3 linked regions of the Homo sapiens genome follow. The protein of the gene in region 2 purifies or fractionates together with the protein of the main gene of each other region. This does not show direct contact. Each region holds a gene or a part of one and is shown on either strand. Other genes may lie near its edges. The genes, in order: ARHGEF2, FBXO45 and SPRYD3.

The links.
Region 1: the proteins of FBXO45 (region 2) and ARHGEF2 purify together in Homo sapiens (affinity purification with mass spectrometry; one large-scale study listed by BioGRID and IntAct). This does not show direct contact.
Region 3: the proteins of FBXO45 (region 2) and SPRYD3 purify together in Homo sapiens (affinity purification with mass spectrometry; one large-scale study listed by BioGRID and IntAct). This does not show direct contact.

Annotation. Positions count from the first base shown.
Region 1 is NC_000001.11:155,957,899-155,961,547, reverse strand, and holds part of ARHGEF2 (rho guanine nucleotide exchange factor 2), read left to right. Parts: intron 1-3,151; coding exon 3,152-3,228; intron 3,229-3,649. UniProt on the Homo sapiens protein: Activates Rho-GTPases by promoting the exchange of GDP for GTP.
Region 2 is NC_000003.12:196,585,577-196,589,325, forward strand, and holds the end of FBXO45 (F-box/SPRY domain-containing protein 1), read left to right. Parts: 3' UTR 1-3,483; downstream 3,484-3,749. UniProt on the Homo sapiens protein: Component of E3 ubiquitin ligase complex consisting of FBXO45, MYCBP2 and SKP1. Functions in substrate recognition but also plays an important role in assembly of the complex.
Region 3 is NC_000012.12:53,069,266-53,072,914, reverse strand, and holds part of SPRYD3 (SPRY domain-containing protein 3), read left to right. Parts: intron 1-3,649.

The sequences.
Region 1 (3,649 bases), on a different chromosome or scaffold from region 2:
AATCCCAGCACTTAGGGAGGCCGAGGCGGGCGGATCACGAGGTCAGGAGATTGAGACCATCCTGGCTAACACAGTGAAACCCTGTCTCTACTGAAAATACAAAAAATTCGCCGGGCGTGGTGGTGGGCGCCTATAGTCCCAGCTACTCAGGAGGCTGAGGCAGGAGAATGGCGTGAACCCAGGAGGCGGAGCTTGCAGTGAGCCCAGATTGCACCACTGCACTCTAGCCTGGGTGACACAGCAAGACTCCATCTCAAAAAAAAAAAAAAAAAAGAATCAACCTCCCTTTATGCAGCCCATACAACAGTGAGACTCAGTGGGAGAGAAAAATAGGATCTCTGTGGCAGAAAAGCCTGAATTCTGCAGTTAACTTTATGGACCATACAGGGCCTTCCCTATCAGTATTTTATAATTTCTTTGGTCCTTGCATGCCTAGAGAGCTACTAGTTTTACTGAGGAAGACAAAGAAGCTCTCAGACTGGAGGACAGGATCAGTTGATTCCCCCAGCTGGAATCCCAGCTACCAGGGATGGGAGTAAGCAAGAGCTTTGGGGAGCGCAGCCAGAGGAGGCCCAGAGGAGGGGACTGAGCCGGTGAAGGACAGGCAGGGAGGAGAAGAGACAGCAGGGCAGAGGGAGCAGATCAGGGGCCAGGGCACACTTTCCCAGGCTCTCTTTCCAGAATTTGTCTGCACTGGCAAAGTCTTTCTCACCTAAATCAAAGCAAGAGAATAGCAGGCCTTGGCTTTGGGGATGAGATGTGAGGGACAATAGGAAACTGTGATACCTGAGGCCAAAGCCTGCCTGAGCCTCTGTACCTGTGTCATGAAATCCCTGCTCCCTGGGTTTGGATATTGTCAGTCTTCACCAGCCTCTTTCCTTTATCCCTTTCTCTCCTTCCCATCTCTCCCACGCAGCAGCTAAGAATATAAACCATGGGGGATTAAAAATAGCAAGGCTGGAGAGTGTTATTTCTGAAGCATTTAGCAAAAGCCCTCCCCTTCTGTGTGCCCACAGTTTAGTAAAATCCCCAAGGGCAAAGGAGGAGTGTATGTTTTCTCTCTCTTTTTTTTTTTTTTTAGAAACAGGGTCTCGCTTTGCTGCTCAGGCTGGGGTGCAGTGGTGCAGTCATAGCTCACTGTAACTCAAACTCCTGGGCTCAAGTGATCCTTCTGCCTTAGACTCCTGAGTAACTGGGACTACAGACCTGCACCACCACACCCAGCACATTTTTAAATTTTTTGTAGAGATAAGATCTTGCTATGTTGCCTAGGCTAGTCTTGCTCAGACTCCTGGCCTCAAGTGATTCTCCTGCCTCAGCCTCCCAAAGTGCTGGGATTGTAAATGTGAGCCACTATGCCTCGCCCTCTGTTTTCTTGATTGTGACATCCAAGTTTTATGGAATTGATCTTTGTTTCCTCCCTCAGTCTTGGAGTGCTGACCCCATAGGATCTGAGAGCTTGGAGTGTGAAGCAGAGAAAGAAATTGAAGCAGGGGCCTGCTGGGGTTGAAGGAGATGGGTGGGTGAGGGATGGTCTTTCAGTCCTCTGCGAGAGGAAGGAAACTTTCTCCCTCCCTACCAAGCTCAAAATTAGAAGTGGGAATATGCCAGGACAGGGAGAATTTAGGTCAGATAGCCGTAAAGGTCTTCCTTAGTTAGATATTAGAAATGGAATTTAAAGGCTAAAAAATGTGGTCCAGGCTGGGCACGGTGGCTCATCCCTATAATCTCAGCACTTTGGGAGGCTGAATCAGGCAGGCAGATCGCCTGAGGTCCGGAATTCGAGACCAGCCTGGCCAAGATGGTGAAACCCCATCTCTACTAAAAATACAAAAATTAGCCAGGCATGGCAGCATTCACCTGTAGCCACAGCTACTTGGGAGGCTGAGGCATGAGAATCGCTTGAACTCAGGAGGCAGAGGTCACAGTGAGCAGAGATCACACCACTGCCCTCCAGCCAGGGCGACAGAGCGATACTTGGTCCCAAAAAATAAAAAATAGGCCAGGCGCAGTGGCTGATGCCTGTAATCCCAGCACTTCGGCAGGCCAAGGCAGGCAGATTACTTGAGGTCAGGAGTTAGAGACCAGCCTGGCCAACGTGGTGAAACCCCGTCTCTACAAAAATGCAAAAAATTAGCCAGGTGTTGTGGCGTGCTCCTTAATCCCAGCTGCTCAGGAGGCTGAGGCAGGAGAATCGCTTTTTCCTGGGAGACAGAAGTTGCAGTGAGCCAAGATGGCACCACTGCACTCCAGCCTAGGCGACAGAGTGAGACTCCGTCTCAAAAAAATAATAATAGAATCAAATTAAATTAAAAATAAATAAAAAATAAAAGTATGGTCCCTCTTGCTCTGGGGAACCTTATGAATCTCACAAAAATCTTGGACCCTGTCACCCAAAAAAATACACGAGTTATGTTAATATGTAAAACTATTTACACACCTTCAGAAGGTTTACAGAGCCACTGAAGCCTGACATCCCAGGGGGTCTGTAGGCCCTAGGTTAAGAAACCTGAATCAGTCAGGTAGAAAGGGTTTTCTGTAGACACTGAGTGATCCCTGTGGTTCCTGCTAGCCCACAACGCTGTTTTGTCTGATAGCACATGAATCTTTCTGCACCCTGCCCGCCCCCCACCCCCCACCCACACTGTTTTTAAGCTGTAAGAATGTGTGACCAGGCGCGGTGGCTCATATCTGTAATCCCAGCACTTTGGGAGGCCGAAACTGGTGGATAAACCTGAGGTCAGGAGTTTGAGACCAGCCTGACCAACATGGTGAAACCCCGTCTCTACTAAAAATACAAAATTAGCCGGGCATGGTGGCACACGCCTGTAGTAGTCCCAGCTCCTTGGGAGGCTGAGGTAGGAGAATCGCTTGAACCCGGGAGGCGGAGGTTGCAGTGAGCCAAGATTGCACCATTGCACTCCAGCCTGAACAACAAGATGAAAACTCTGTATCAAAAAAAAAAAAAAAAAATAGAATGGGTGAGGTGTGAGAGGTCTGAAAAAGTGCAAGCAGCCAGAGGGAAGAGAGGCCAGGAAGAGGGAAACTGGGAGCTCTAACCTGATGGGATAAGCCTGGTCCTTGGGAAAGAGGGAAGCAGCTGCTCAGACCGTCTAGTGCTGACTGTTCTCCCACCTTCATCCCCTTCCAGATGTGCTAGTGCTGCTGATGACAGATGTACTGGTGTTTCTCCAGGAAAAGGACCAGAAGTACATCTTTCCTACCCTGGTGAGACATTCATTCTTCACCTTTCTCAGCACAGACAAGTGTTTTAGTCTCTTCTTGCTTTCCTGCCCAAGCCCACGAGAGCTCTGGAGTCCCCCAGAGTCAAACAGCTATAATTGTTACTATTACCGTAATAATAAAAAATAAGAGCAGCTCACAGGTACTGTTACTGTGCACAGGCACTTTTACACCTGTGGGAAAAGATTATTTTCGTCCTCATTTTATAGATGATGAAAGTAAAGCTTCAAGTCAGTTAAATAATTTGTCAAGGGTTGCACACATTTCTAAGTCCCTTCTGGCTGGCACCAGTGCCTGGCTCTTAACTGGTATTGTAAGATGACTCTTCAGTCCTTTCAGTCCTCGTCCAGAAGGATTGAAGGCCTAAATATGCCAAGGGACAGGATTCCCAGGCTTAATCCTTCCT
Region 2 (3,749 bases):
GGTTGGCAATATTTGAAGGTTTCGTTGTAGAAGAGTTTAACATTAACTCCTATTTTGACTTACAAATCTTGTTTCTCATCACTAAAATGCTTTTGAATTAATAATCCAACCCACATGAGCTGAGAGTTTTTCTTTTGTTAGAAAAGAAACAGACATCTTTCTGTATGAAAGTATAAATTGTATGGTTTTAGATACATAAGAATTGACAAAAGCGAGCGAAATCTTTGTACTTCTGAGTTCTTGCTGTATGTATGTTTTGTTTTAAATCTGATTAGGGACACCCAGCAGCTGGCCGGGATTCTTGGATTGCTCCTTGGGAGTTAAGATTGTCAATACTCCTGTGAAGCAAGGGATTTCAGCCATAGAACAAAGATTTATTGTTGCCACCTGAAAAGTTTACAAGTATTTATTGTGTATTTGATACATTGCTTGAAAAGATGAAATCTGTTAAAGATTCTTTTCGATGTCCAGGTTAAGAAGAAACCTCCTTGTATTGAGTGAAATTATATGTTAAATGTATTAGAGAATGTAGGTGGTATAGAAATTGATTTTTCTTGGTGTAGAACAACTCAGTTCGGCAAAGTTTAAAATTTGATTAAACAAGAGAAGTGGTTCAGGTTGAAGATGGACTTGTTAGGAAGTGATCAAGTCCTTTAAGTACTTGTTTCTTTTTCAGGTTGTGATGTGGCCATTCCGAATTTTGTTGAGAGTTTGGTTTATAATTGTCTCTTTTGTCTTGTTAGTAAACATTCATTTGCAACAGTTTTGAAGGTGCTGAGTGGAAAACCGAAACACATGGTTATTGCGTATTGGACCTAGAATGAAATAATTGCCTCAATATTTAACAACAAGCCATTCTTATCTCAAAGATTTAAATTCCCGAATGTCCCATTCGCAAATCATATGCAATTGAAGTGAGCAGCATGAGCATCTGGGTCATGAGGGCCTTCATTTACGTAAATTTGTCACTAAAACCCAGTAGTAGCTCTACAAAATCTTAAACTGCTGCAGTGCTCAAGGAGATGGAATATCTTTGTCATTGGTGCTGAGGAGAGCATTTCGGTAGAAGACAGTTGCGCCTGAAGATTGAGTGTAAATCATTCAAACCAGTGGTTCTCAGTGTTGGCTGTATACACTTTGTAGTCACTTTGGAATGTTGGAAGACACATCGATGCTTGGGTTCCGTATGCCAAGATTCTGATGTTGGTCTGGAATATGAGCTGGTCATAAGGATTTTTAAAAACTTTCTGGTCATTTCAATATGCTGCCAAGGTTGAGAACCACTGTTGTAAAATTCACCTTGAGTTTTCTCATCTGCAAAATAGAAAAAAAAAAATCCTTGCTCCCTCCCTTCACTACCTCACAAGGATATTGAGGGTAAAGGAGAAAATAATGGGAAAGTGCTTGTGCCGTGGATGAAAAGTGCTATTAAAAGTCAAAGGAGTGTTCTGTTTCAATTCATAGTATGATCAGGGAAAGTGTAACTGAGTATACTTTGTTGACTTGGGAAACCTGGAGCACTTTCTTTGGTTGGTTAACGAAGCATGCAGATGTGGAAGCAGACGTTACTATTATCCCTACTATGGTCTTCTGTCATACTGAGACAGGCTGTTTTAATTACCTGGTTTTACATAGGAAAGAAGAAATATTAAGGCTTAAAGTTTGTAATGATCAATGGCTCATAATTCATTAAATCTTTTCATACAAGGAATTTGTGGTTAATGTCATTTCATAGTTGCCATTATTTTCTCATTATTTGACTTAAATGTTAAGCCATTTATTTCATCTCCCTCATTCACATAAAGTGTAGATATGGATTCAATAAGACACCAAAAGAAAGTAAGATTTACCCAGTTAATATTTAAAATCATTGTTCAGTGATTAGGCATTTTCTGCCTTTTAGAATTATTTGACTGGAGAAAGAGTTTCAAAAATAGCAGAGCCCTAAACCATAAAGAAACTACTACTGTATAATGAACTTTTGTTTGTTTTTGGAGACAGGGTTTCACTCTACTGCCTAGGCAGGTCTTGAACTCCTGGGCTCAAGCAGTCTTCCTGCCTCAGCCTCCCAAGTAGCTGGGATTACAGGTGTATGCCACTATACCCAGCTTTAACTTTTAAATCCCCAAACTATGTAGATTGTCATATTAATATTAATTTTTTTTTGTTATTTTGAAGAAGTGAGTAATTTGAAGAGATAGAAACTTAGGGAGTGGTGTGTGTGTTTCTTTTTTGGAGACAGAGTCACGCAGGCTGGAGTGCACGATCTTGACTCACTGCAACCTTTGCCACCCAGGTTCAAGCAATTCTCGTGCCTCAGCCTCCCGAGTAGCATGTGCCACCACACCTGGCTAATTTTTTTCTTTTTTCTTTTAGACGGAGTCTTGCTCTGTTGCCCAGGCTGGAGTGCGGTGGTGTGATCTCAGTTCACTGCAACCTTTGCCTCCCGGGTTCAAGTGATTCTCCTGCCTCAGTCTCCCGAGTAGCTGGGATTACAGGCACCTGCCACCATGCCTGGCTAATTTTTGTATTTTTAATAGAGACGGGGTTTCACCATGTTGGCCAGGCTGGTCTCGAACTCCTGACCTTGTGATCCACCCACCTCAGCCTCCCAAAGTGCTGGGATTACAGGCATGAGCCACTGTTCCCGGGCCTAATCTTTGTATTTTTAGTAGAGGGGGTTTATGCCATGTTGGCCAGGCTGGTCTTGAACTCCTGGCCAACACCACCCACCTCGCCTCCCAAAGTGCTGGGGTTACAGGCGCGAGCCACCGTGCCAGGCCAGAAATTTAAGGAGTTTTAAAGGTTAGCATTGAAAAGATTACTTTCCAGAAATTGAGACCACCACAGTTCCACAATTGGGACTGTGGTAGATAATCAGGACCACTTGGAAGCCTTTATTAGGAACAGCCCACACCCAGCCCAAATGCTGTCCTCAAAAACATTCCTCAGTTTCTCTAGCTGAATGTAATCTCTCCTTGAAATTTCCCTAGTTTTATATATCTATAGTTGACTCATGCTGTATTTATTTATACCTTGTTTAAAATTATTTATTGATTATTTATTGGTGTCATATCGCCCCTAAACTGGGACAGGATCTCTAACGGACTCATCTTTGTGCCACAACATGTAAGCCCAATAGGCAGGTGCTCACATATTTGCTGAAGGAACAGAGAAAGAACTGCGGAGAAAGACAAAAGCTCCTCTGAAGTTTTAGACTATAGAAGCAAAAATTATAGTAGCAAAAGATGAATGAGAAATTCTGTTCTAGTCCCAGTGAAGCAGGAAGGAAAGGGTTGCAAACTTGAGGCTGGTAAGGAAGAAATAATTACTGTGAATGCATTTAGCCACTCCCCTCTACTCAAAAATACTGGTAAACTCTGATTTTTATATTTGTTTAGAATTTAAATTAGAATTCTGTATCTTTATTTTTTGGAATTCTGTTGTTTTGCCTTAGTTTCTTAATAAAAAGTTAAACATTAACCACCTGTGATTGCTTACATTTAAAGACATTTTTTACACATTGGTTAGAAAGAAAAATTGGGGTGCCTTAATAGCCAGAGGTGGTGATGGAATTTACCTATAAATTCCATGGCTTTAATAATAGAATCCACATTCCCCATGTTTAGAATGGAAAGTGGACAGAGAACAGTAATTCACTAGGGTCTTATTTCCCAATTGCCTCTACCGCCCCCCACCCCACCCTCCTGCTGACATTTGTTTGATAATGCAGTTGTTTGCCAAGAATT
Region 3 (3,649 bases), on a different chromosome or scaffold from region 2:
ATTCAAAGTGTTGTGGGGCAGGTGTGGTCAGAAGTCCACACATGTGGTGGAAGGTTCTTAGCCATCTTTTTTGAGGAAGTGTCAATGTCAGTTTCTATTGTCTTATCCCTGCATTTGATAGAGGATTAGAATGGAGGCAGATAAAGATTCAGTGAGCATCCTTACACCTCCAAACTTGCTTCATTTATCTTTTCCTCATACCTGCTTTAGTATGGATTTTAAGCTTCGTTGGGAAGCGTGTGGAGCTTGAGAAAGGGGAATTCTTCCTCCCCGGATTTTAAGTTTTGTTGGAAAATTCATGAACCTTGAGAAAGGAAAATTCTTCCTGTCTGCCTCAATACACTGTGCTGCATTGGGAGTGAATGGACGCCAAGTCCGGGATCTGGCCCTGACCTCTAGTGGGCTGCTCAGCCCTCCCACTTCGAATTGTCCCTCTCCTACCCCCTTGCTCCTGGCCTGGCCTTTTTCTCCACCCTCTGGCCTTTCCACCCCAACCCAGGCTGTTTTCAACTCAGTCTTTGATAACAAAACAGAAGCAGTGGGGGGTGGGAGCGGATTAGGAGCCAGGCCTCCCCCTGGTGGAGTGGAACTCAGGGAAAATGACAGGAAGTGTGCCCTCCTGCTGCTTCTGACACTCTGCACCCCCGTCTGGCATCAGGGTCCCAGGCTGCAGCGACCGAGAGCTAAGAGGCCTCAGATGCCCACTCCGTGACTCTCATGTCTTTCCTTTTTCCCCTCAATCTACCATCATTCTGACAACATCTACAGAGTTAAACTTGGGGCTGCGCCAGGGCGATGTTCCAGCTCTCATCTCTGACCTCTCCTCAAGAGTTTTTTCCTGGCATCCTTTCTCTGCCTGGACCTGTCCCCACTCTGCTCTCAGCTCCTCCCAGGCAATCTTTTCTAATTGATGCAGAATCCTGTAGACATTTATAAATAGCCTTCCTTCCTCCCCACCCTCCCCCCAACACCTTCAGCCACTTATTTAAGAGTGTTTTTCTTTTTTAGACATAAGCTGTTGAATTGGGCCCTTCTCTCAGACCCTCACCCCAGCTTGGGCCAGGTGGCAGGGTGGGAGCACTACTCCTGGGGCACCCGTTCCTCTGGGGCCAACTTGGATGTGAGCTTCCTGAGGGACATGTGCCTTTTTCCAGTCATGCCAACTTTCCTTTTTTTTTTTTTTTTTTTTTTAAGACAGGCTATCACTCTGTCACCCAGACTGGAGTGCTGGTTCACTTCAGCCTCCAACTCCCAGGCTCAAGGGATCCTCCCACCTTGGCCTCCCAAATTGCTGGGATTAGAGGCATGAGCCACTGCCCTGGGCCTCAACAGTTGTTAGATTTGAGTCTTTGGATATAGACAGACCTGGCTCTTTCTTGAGTGGAATTCTTCCCCTGCCTCCTGTGGCCTGTTTCCCCCTCCTAAAGAGTCTACCTCCTCAGAGCTCTGAGGGGTTGAGGAATTGCTGGGGCACTTGCCTCTCACCTCATCCCTGCCTCCAGGCCTCGCAAAGTGAGGTAATGTGGTGGAGGGGAGCTGGGGGCGGTAGGTAACAGCTGGGGGATTAGACTCATTCTGTGTTTGTGCCCTGTTCACAGCTCCTCTGACAACTCCTTAGTGACAGGGGCAACAGCTTTGGTACACACAGGGTGGTGAATGAGGCCCCGCCCTCCCAGGGGTCCTCCCCAGACCCAGCCCAGAGGGAGGCTGTGCTGGAGCCTGAGCTGGCCAGGAGAGTGTGTACTTGGTTCCTGTTTCAGTTGCTTCTGGGCCCTCAGGGCACTGAGCCCTTCCTTGCTCCTGTCAAGAGGGATTAGGGTCTCTGCTGGCAAGGGGAGGAGGGCGGATACCGGCAGGGGAGAAGAGGCTGGGAAGGTGCTACTGGTAGAGGGAGGGTGTGGAGTGCACGAGACTGTCCACACTCTGGTCTGCAGCCGCCACTCTGTGGCACTGAGTCATGTCTTTGGCTTCTTGGGGCTTTGGTGGTATGTGTGTATTAGGGGGAGACCCAAAGAAAGGGCTCCATCTTCCCCCACCAAAAATGCAGAGAAACATTTCTGTTGATTGGACATTGTTTGAGAGGAGACACATAGGGTAGAGTTGTCTGGGGAGTGGCCATCGTCCTGGTTGGCCTAAGGGACCATTGTAGTTGGAAGTAAGGGCTAAGATGAAAGATCATTTCCTTCTTTGTGATCGGCAATTCCAACGTAACCCCATTTACACTGATTTAGGGAGAGGCAGCAATGTGTATTGGTCACTTCATTAAGTCTTCCCACTTGTTTTTGGAAATTCAGGTAATCTTATCCCAGTTTACTGTTGAAGAAACCAAGGCTTAAGGAGGTGAATGTCATTTGCCTGAGGTTAGCGGCTGTTAAGTAATAGGAGTTAGGATTTGAACCCAGGTCTGTTGGATTCTGAGGTACAGGTTGAGGGACCAGCATCAAGATCCTAACAGTTCAGACTCTAAGGGTTAACCTTCACTCCTCCTCTAGGTTCCTAACAGCTATAGACCAAGGAGGCAGAGGAATGTACTCAAGAAAGAATCTGTCAGGGAGGCCAAATATTCCCCCCACTTCCACCCCTCTGAGTTCTCTGGGAAGGCTCAGGAGGGGTCGGGGGAGCTTTGTCCAGGAGCAGGAGAGTGGATCAGGAGGTTTATGATGGCTTTCACTGTGAGGGCTGGGCGGTCCCCTCTGAAGAGGGCACGCTGTACAAGCCTCACCTATACACTGTACAAGTACCTAGTCGTCCAGGACATCAGCATTCTGTCCGAAGTGCTCTGTGGTTGGCAGGTAGAGAGTGGGTTTTAAAGACCCATGTTGGGGTAGTCCGTCCTGGCTTTTAGCGTGAGAAAGCACCTCCACCCTATCCAGAGACAGAAATGCAGCAGCTACCCTCTTCTGAGCTGAGGCAAAGGGAGGGGCTGGCCGGGTATTTCCCAAGGATCAGGGTCTGGATCGGCTGTCTTTTGGCTCTGGAAATGGAGAACACTGTGTTTCCTACACCGAGGCCAGTTGGATAGAATGGGTCAAAGGCAGCTGTGGGGTCCCCCACCCAGTTCTGCAATGCTGGGTGGAGAGGGTGGGCTGGGGGCTGCTCTGCCTGGGTGGAGTCTAAACTAGTTAATGTGGATCAAGCCACACCCCTCCTGGCTTCCCGGGGAGAGAGGCAGAGGAGGAACCCAGGCTGAGCAGAGAATACACCATGAACAGAAGTCAAACAGTGTGGCCTTGGGGATGGGCTTAGGTGGTCTCCCGTGCATGCTGCTTTCCCCCTCATCCATCCCCAGTTATCTTTGGAGAGGAGGGAAGGATGGACTTGAGGTGGCGGGGCTGAGATCCAGGGCTGAGAAAGGCACCAAGCCCCTCTAGTCCTACTCTCAGAAGGGGTTAGTAGCACCCCGCTCTAAGCACCTGAGCTAAGCAGCGGCCGTCTGAGGCTGGGAGTGGGGATGCGGGAGCAGCCTCTGCTGGAGACACGCACAGGCTTCTGTGCTGGTGCAGGTGGGCATAATTCCTTTCCTGTTCAGGCAGGAATCTGTGAGAGGTGAGAGGCCGGCGTCCCAAAGCTTGCCAGGGAGACGTGGAGGAGGTCCCTAGGCAACATGTTTCCTTCAGGGCTGCAGGGGTGGGAGGGTAGAAGAAAGTCG